Regions from separate parts of the Homo sapiens genome. Here regions 1 and 3 are each linked to region 2. The links come from fine-mapping of genetic effects on plasma protein levels. A gene starts in region 2. Each other region holds a variant in brackets. All regions are shown on one strand. Distances are between the middles of the regions.

Region 1 (2,764 bases), 87 kb before region 2:
TTTTTTTGCAACAGAGTCTCGCTCTGTCCCCCAGGCTGGAGTGCAGTGGTGAGATCTCTACTCACTGCAAGCTCCGCCTCCTGGGTTCATGCCATTTCCTGCCTCAGCCTCCTGAGTTGTTGGGACTACAGGGCCGGCCACTACGCCCAGCTAATTTTTTTGTATTTTTTTTTTTTTTAGTAGAGACGGGGTTTCACCGTGTTAGCCAGGATGGTCTCAATCTCCTGACCTCATGATCCGCCTGTCTCACTCCGTCCTCACGTGGCCTTGTCTCTGGTTACTGCATCCCTGGTGCCTCTGTCTTCTCATAAAGACACCTGTCCTATTGGATGAGGGCCCCACCCACATGAGCTCATTTACCTTTAGGAGCCCCCTAAAGTCCCCGTTTTCAACTACAGTCACATTGGGAGTTAGGACTTTAACATATGAATTTTAGGGGGACACATTCAGCCTGTAACAGACATTTCAATTGTTTCTCGTGTCTTAATCTAATTCAAACTTAGCAGTGAGAGCTTCAGTAATCTCAGCCTCTGCCATCTCTCATAGCTGGGTAACTAGCCTTTCACAGGGTCTCACCTTGCTTGCTGAGGGTAAGTGTTAAATCACCCTTGTGACTGGCAGCTTTAAGCAAGTGCCTCATGAGGTAATAACCTACATTGGTCACATTGATTTTTTTATTTCCTTTTTTTTTTTAAATTGAGGCAGAGTCTCACTCTGCCGCCCAGGCTGGAGTGCAGTGGTGCGATCTCGGCTCACTGCAACCTCCACTTTCCAAGTTCAAGGGATTCTCCCACCTCTGCCTCCTGAGTAGCTGGGATTACAGGTGCCTGCCACCATGCCCAGCTAATTTTTTTTTTTTTGCATTATTAGTAGAGACGAGGGTGTCACCATGTTGACCAGGCTGGTCTCGAACTCCTGCACTCAGGTGATCCACCCGCCTCGGTCTCCCAAACTTCTGGGATTACAGGTATGAGCCACCATGCCGACCTTATTTCTTTATTGAAAAATAAATAGAAAAAAAAATTTAAGATGTAAAATGATATGAAATGAAAACCATCTCATCTTCTGTTCCTATCCCACTATCGTATATCTCTTAATTTTCATAATTTCCATTATTTTCATAAATAAGGGCTGTTTCTTTTATGAATTACTGAAA[A/G]CAATTCAAACTGGCTTGTAAAAAAGTGAAAATGAATGACCTCTGAAAAATGAACATTTTCAGATTTGTCTGGATTGGGTTTCAATTTTTTCTTTTCCTTTTTTTTTTTTTTGAGACAGGGTCTTGCTCTGTCACCCAAGCGGAGTACAGTGACACAATCTCGGCTCACTGCAGCCTCAATCTCCTGGGCTCAAGCAATCCCCCCACCTTAGCCTCCCAAATAGCTGGAACTACAGGCATGCACCACCACGCCTGGCTAATTTTCATTGTTTTTGTAGAGATGAGATTTTCCATGTTGCCCAGGCTCGTCTCAAACTGAGCTCAAGCGATCCACCCACCTCAGCCTCCCAAAGTGCTGGGGTTACAGGCGTAAGCCAGTGTGCCCAGCACTTTACTGTCTTTTACCATTTATCTCTTATATGGGATGAAGCACAGTGATTTACCAGGCCTGAGTTATGTGACTAATTTTATGGTGTGGATTGGGATGGATAATGTGTTTTCTGAAAAAAAAAAAAAAGAAAAGAAAAGAAAGAAAGAAAAAAAGAGAAAGAAAGAAGGAAAGAAAGAAAGAAAAAATGCAAGATACTGTTAACAGAAAAGGAAACAGGTGATAGGTAAGTCAATATTACAGATATTCACATTTAATGACAATTTAAAATATAATGCATGTATTGCTTTTTTTTCTTTTTTTTTTAACTGGCGCCTGGCTCATTTTTGTGTTTTTAGTAGAGATGGGGTTTCACCATATTGCCCAGGCTGGTCTCAAACTCCTGGCCCCAAGTGGTCCGCCCATCTTGGCTTCCCAAAGTGCTGGGATTACAGGCATGAGCCACTGTGCCCAGCCTATACTTGTTTTTTTATTGTGGTAAAATGTTTGTAACATAAAACTTACCATTTAACCACTTTTAAGTGTACAGTTCAGTGCCACTAAAGTGCATTCACAATGCTGTACAACCATCACCATTATCCATTTCCAGAACTTTTCCATCATCCCAGACAAACTCTGTACCCATTAAACAGTGACTCCCCAGCCTCTAGTAACCATTATTCTGCTTTTTGTCTCTGTGAATTTGCTTATTCTAGGTACCTCGTGAAAGCGGTATCATACGGTTTTGTCTTTCTGTGTCTGCCTTATTCCACTTAGCATAATGTTTTCAAGGTTCATCCATGTTGTCGGCTGTATCAGAATTTTATTCCTCTTAAGGCAGAATCATGTCCCGTTGTGTGTATTGTACAGATGCTCTCAATTTATGATGGAGCTACATCTCAATAAACCCACCGTAGATGGAAAATATCGTGTTGCAAATGCATTTAATACACCCAACCTACTGAACATCGTAGCTTAGCCTAACCTACCTTAAACATGCTCAGAACACTTAGATCAGCCTACAGCTGGGCAAAATCATCCAACACAAACCTTCTTTTATAATCAAGTGTTGAATATTTCCCGTAACTTATAGAATACTGAAAGTAGAAATCAGTATGGTTGTACGGGTACTTGAAGTACAGTTCCTATTGAATGGTTATCACTTTTGCACCATTGTGAAGTCAAAAAATATTAAGTCAAACCATCGTAAGCTGGGGACTATCTGTGTTTGTTTTTGAATA
Region 2 (2,742 bases):
GGCGGTTACATATTGGGGAGGGGGGACTGTAAGGGAATGAAATCCTGAGCATTATCCTCAAAGGAGGGAGGGGCCTTATAGACTTAGGCCTATCTAGAAGCGCCTCTCTCCTCAGAGAGTAAAACCTCACTGTTTCTCAGAGGGCTGAGAGGCTTGAAGGAAGAGTTTGGGCAGAAACTCTGCTTTGAATAGAAGCAGCAGATCCAGTTGAGAGAAAGAGGTTCACAAATTCCATTTCATGGCTTTTTTTTTTTTAAAGACAGATTTTCACTCTTGTTGCCCAGGCTGGTGTTGAATGGCATGATCTCAGCTCACTGCAACCTCTGCTTCCCAGGTTCAAGCTATTCTCCTGTCTCAGCCTCCCGAGTAGCTGAGATTAAGGCGCATGCCACCATGCCCGGCTAATTTTTGTATTTTTAGTAGAGACGGGGTTTTCACCATATTGGTCAGGCTGGTCTCGAACTCCTGACCTCAGGTGATCCACCTGCCTCGGCTTCCCAAAGTGCTGGGATTACAGGCAAGAGCCACTGCGCCCGGCCTCATGTCTTTTTTATACTTAAGCACCAGGCCCATGTAATGATGCACGAATTCATTTACTCCTACTCGTGCCAGGCCCTTTCCTGGGGGCTGGAGACAAAGGGCCGACGTGGACGCTGCGTCATGGTAGCACCTGTCTCGCAAAGTGCACACCGTGCTCCACCCACAGCCTCAGCATTCTCGTTGCTAGGAATATGGACCCTCAGGCAGCACCTCAGACCTAGACCTACTGTATCAGAATCTCTGTGCTGGTCCTGAGAATGTGCATTCTCAACAGCGCCTCACATTCCCCACCCCAATTCTTCTGCAGCTAACGTTTGAGAGCGCTGGTCTGGTGCCTACTGCCTCTGCAGGCGGTTTTCAAGGCAGCCGTGTGTGCTTGCATGTGAGGCGGCAAAAACAGCGCGCTGCAGGGCCGGCGCGGTGGCTCACGCCTGTAATCCCAGCACTTTGGGAGGCGGAGGCGGGTGGATCACGAGGTCAGGATATCGAGACCATCCTGGCTAACACGGTGAAACCCCGTCTCTACTAAACAAAAATACGTGGTGGTGGGCGCCTGTAGTCCCAGCTATTCGGGAGGCTGAGGCAGGAGAATGGCTTGAACCCGGGAGGCAGAGCTTGCAGTGAGCCGGGATCGCACCACTGTACTCCAGCCTCGGCGACAAACAAACAAACAAACAAAAAAAACAGCGCGCTGCAGATGGAGCCAGCACCCGGGCTTCTCGCTCCCAGCCCCCTCCCGAAGCCCCGCCCCGCCTCCGGGTCTGGAGGAGGCTGGGAAGCCCCGCCCCTCCACGCTAGCGCCGCCCAGGCTGGCACAAAGGAGGAAGCCTAGTCCCGCCCCTGCGTGCGGCGCTTCTCCCAGGCCCCACCTTCCATCCAGTGCCCTGGACCCTCGGCTGGGTAGCGCCACCAGAGCGACCAAACGTCCCGCGCCTTCCAGGCCGCACTCCAGAGCCAAAAGAGCTCCATGGCGGCGGCGGCCAAGCCCAACAACCTTTCCCTGGTGGTGCACGGACCGGGGGACTTGCGCCTGGTAAGCTGGGAAGGAGGGTGGGAAGCATACCGATCCTGCCTCACTCTCCTCTGAGCCCAGCCATAGTCCTGGCTTCCCACTTCCAGCCTGGCGCCGGCCCCGCACCTTAAGCGCCCTGGCTGCCCAGATCCCAGCTGGTTCCCCTCGGGGTGTGGGGGCAGCAGGTAGTGGCTGTTGCGAAGGGCAGGGATCTAGTCGTGTGCCTCCCGGAACCTAGCCCCGTGGCTGGCACGTGGCCGGTGCCCAGGACGGTTGCAAACTGTTTGAATGAAGCTTTCTCTCTCCTTTGCCAGCTGCAGATTCATAGTCCAGCCTCTTGTCATTGACCTTTCCAAAGGAAATGCTAAGGCTGTCTGAATTATCGGGGCAGACCGTGCAGAGCAGAGAAAGGGGGGCCAGAGGACACTTAGAAACAGCAGAACTTGTATTTAACTCCCTTGCTTGGGACTGATAAACCTCCCTTGCAGGATTATGATGATCACAAGAGTACTCAGCACTTAGTACGTGCTCAGGAAGTGCCAGCTCCTTCTCCTTTCCTTCCAGTCTAGGCCTCCATCTCCAGAACCCCTGCTGTTCCCCTTGCCTGTGCCAGACTTGTGGATCTTGATAGCTCCCTTGTCTGTAAGGATCCTTCTCTCCCTAAGACCCTGTCTGGTTCACTTTCCAGCAGTTTTTCTTTCCAATCCCGTGCCTCTGTCCCTTTAGGAGCATTCTGTATGTGTGTCCTCTGCCTTAGACCCTGCCTTTTGCTCCCTGGCTTGTGGCACCAAAGTTTAGGAAGTGGCTGAGTCAGCAGCCTAGTCATGCCAAGCCTCCCTTGACAAAGTCCCTCTCAGATGGGCCTGGGATGGCAGTGGGTATGTGGGATGAGTGCCAGCCATCTCTGCTGCTCCCCTGTACCTCTTTTCCCTCAAAGTACATGCGTCAGTATGTAAACTGCAGTAATTCAGAAGCTTATCCAGGTTAGCAGTTCTTGACTATTTAAGAATCTGTGGTGTCCCCTCCACAGAATGCAAATAGACTGAGTTTGGCAACAATTTCAGACTGCTCAAGGACTCCCTTTAAGCCGCTCTAAGCCCCTCTATAGAACCCTTGTCCCAGCTGACTCTCCATCTCCTCAGTTGAAGAAAGTACCATACCCAAGGTGATAGGTTTTGTTAGTTAACAGA
Region 3 (2,764 bases), 950 kb before region 2:
ATAAAGGGGATGAGGTACCTTCTAGCTGCTATGGAAGGTCTATTTATTTGTTAATGGAGAAGTTAGTTGCTATAAGAAACTTTTAAACTTCCTCACAAGGGGTACAATACCTCCTGCCTGCTTTTCATAGTGACGTCAGCTTTAGTGCCATCACCAGGCATTTCTTAGGTCTGCATTTCAGAGGTCTAGTACTAATAACCTAAGCACTAAGGAAAAGACCATTGGGGTCCCTCTGAGCTATAAGGTGAAGCTAGTGCTTGGGCAGCTCTGGGTGATGAGCAGCCATTACAGTGCCTTTCCCGGTCCAGGCCAGCTCTTAGCACAAGTGACTCCTGAGGGAAATGGCTGATTACTTGGCTCTGAATAGTATAAAATAGAACATGTTTGCTTCTTCATTCCACATAATAAATTTCTTTTTAAAAAATCACATAGGCCTTGGAGGGTTTCTAAACATGGCTGGTTTGATACAGAGCCATCATAAGTAGACCCAGAAAATATCCTCTCCCTGGCTTGAACATCAACAATTTTAATGAATTGGATGGGAAATGAGGTCTTAGCCAAATAGATCTCAACTGGAAATTCTAAAGTGGTGCCAATTTTGAAGGAAAATGAATAAATTTCTTCAAACAAGAGACTGCTCAACTCTTGAACAGTCATAGTTTATTACAAATATTAAAGGAGTTAAGGAGATGTAAGTTTATTAAGCCCCTATTTCCATCATTAAAAAAAAGTTTCCCCTCTTAATTTAAGTGAGTCCTGTCTCAACCTTTTTGACATTTATAATACAAAACACTCCATTGTAAATACTCAAATGATGGTATAAATATAGGGAATTTCTCCCTATTTTAGACAGTACTTTCCTTTTAACTTAGGGTTTAGCAAATCAAAGAAAACAGGTATGTATGTAGCCATGGAAGCATTCAGAGTTGCCTCCCCTGCATATTCTCTGTTTGACTCATTTTTTCTATAGACGTTCCACAGGAAAAGGAGTGTTCCAACTAAAAACCAAAAAACTATCCAAATTCAATTATTCACTCCCCTGATATGAGAGCAGGAGCTCGTGAAAGCACAAGTCC[C/T]GACAAGCAGAGGAAAACACTCAGATAAATGAAAAGCTCTATGATTGCCATTCTAACTGGTGTGAGATGGTATCTCATTGTGGTTTTGATTTGCATTTCTCTGATGGCCAGTGATGATGAGCATTTTTTCATGTGTTTTTTGGCTGCATAAATGTCTTCTTTTGAGAAGTGTCTGTTCGTGTCCTTCGCCCACTTTTTGATGGGGTTGTTTGTTTTTTTCTTGTAAATTTGTTTGAGTTCATTGTAGATTCTGGATATTAGCCCTTTGTCAGATGAGTAGGTTGCGAAAATTTTCTCCCATTAAAAAGTCAGGAAACAACAGGTGCTGGAGAGGATGTGGAGAAATAGTAACACTTTTACACTGTTGGTGGGACTGTAAACTAGTTCAACCATTGTGGAAGTCAGTGTGGCAATTCCTCAGGGATCTAGAACTAGAAATACCATTTGACCCAGCCATCCCATTACTGGGTACATACCCAAAGGACTATAAATCATGCTGCTATAAAGACACATGCACACGTATGTTTATTGTGGCATTATTCACAATAGCAAAGACTTGGAACCAACCCAAATGTCCAACAATGATAGACTGGATTAAGAAAATGTGGCACATATACACCATGGAATACTATGCAGCCATAAAAAATGATGAGTTCATGTCCTTTGTAGGGACATGGATGAAATTGGAAATCATCATTCTCAGTAAACTATCGCAAGAACAAAAAACCATATACTGCATATTCTCACTCATAGGTGGGAATTGAACTATGAGATCACATGGACACAGGAAGGGGAACATCACACTCTGGGGACTGTTGTGGGGTGGGGGGAGGGGGGAGGGATAGCATTGGGAGATATACCTAATGCTAGATGATGAGTTAGTGGGTGCAGTGCACCAGCATGGCACATGTATACATATGTAACTAACCTGCACAATGTGCACATGTACCCTAAAACTTAAATTATAATAATAAAAAAGAAAAGAAAAAAAAAAAGCTCTATGAACAAGTATAGAGGCTTTCTGGTCTCCAGACTTAAAATGATACCTCTTATAGTCATCTCTCAGTCTGAGATGTCCAGAAATGGGTATCTTAGAGTGACCCACAGTTGTTACCAAAAATCTCAATTCAACCATCACATGTATTCTCAGAAATGCCAGATTCATCTGCTTGGCTAGCACAGATTTATTCTTGGATATAGACTGCTATAGGGAAATGTTGTGATGTCTGAAATAACAACACTCTCGCCTTGATACTTTCCCCAGAAAACATTTCTTTTGCTCACTCTCTTGGAACATTTTCCCTGGGGAAATCTATAAGTCAAGCATAACAGGTTATGACATATCCATGTCAATGGGTAACTGAATACATTTTAGGAATAAATTGTCATTACCTATCATGCCTTAATGTTCATGTAAATCAAAGAAACTACTTTCCACTTAAAACACACAGAAACTATTATTTTTCCTTTTCTTCTCAAGAGCTATGGTGTACTACTCTGGAGTAGGAATATTACTAGAGTAGCTTGAGGATTTGTTTGTTTCTGAGAAAAATCATTACAAAGAAATGGGCACTTATTTAAAATGTTCTTAAACACATGGAGAATATATTCAACTGCATTGTCAAAAAACTAAACCAAAACTGTAAGAGATTACAAAAAGAAATGATAAATAACTGCAAGATTAAAAA

Which allele goes with the higher level. Alleles are on the strand shown, and positions count from the first base shown. The strength of an association depends on the size of the effect and on how common the allele is.
For the plasma level of the protein whose gene starts at base 1,419 in region 2, A is the high allele of the variant in region 1 and G is the other (moderate association).
For the plasma level of the protein whose gene starts at base 1,419 in region 2, allele T in region 3 goes with a lower level than allele C (weak association).

What was found. PIP is the chance, under the fine-mapping model, that this variant and not a neighbour inherited with it causes the effect. The UK Biobank Pharma Proteomics Project read protein levels with antibody pairs (Olink). The fine-mapping took linkage between variants from a reference panel, not from the people measured, so its PIPs are less certain.
Region 1: its variant is fine-mapped to the plasma level of the SORD protein (UK Biobank, PIP 0.93).
Region 3: its variant is fine-mapped to the plasma level of the SORD protein (UK Biobank, PIP above 0.99).

The regions. Positions count from the first base shown.
Region 1 is chr15:44,934,387-44,937,150 of GRCh38, forward strand. No RefSeq gene overlaps it. Among named protein-coding and RNA genes, the nearest start is that of TERB2, 21 kb to the right of the region's middle. The variant A/G (reference allele first, on the strand shown) is at 1,157.
Region 2 is chr15:45,021,777-45,024,518 of GRCh38, forward strand. SORD (sorbitol dehydrogenase) reads left to right here and starts at 1,419. Exons shown (of 9, transcript NM_003104.6): 1 at 1,419-1,573. The coding sequence starts at 1,508. RefSeq lists a silencer at 1,199-1,368 and an enhancer at 2,138-2,742.
Region 3 is chr15:44,074,729-44,077,492 of GRCh38, forward strand. The region is part of intron 1 of FRMD5 (FERM domain containing 5); the gene reads right to left. Among named protein-coding and RNA genes, the nearest start is that of FRMD5, 120 kb to the right of the region's middle. The variant C/T (reference allele first, on the strand shown) is at 1,077.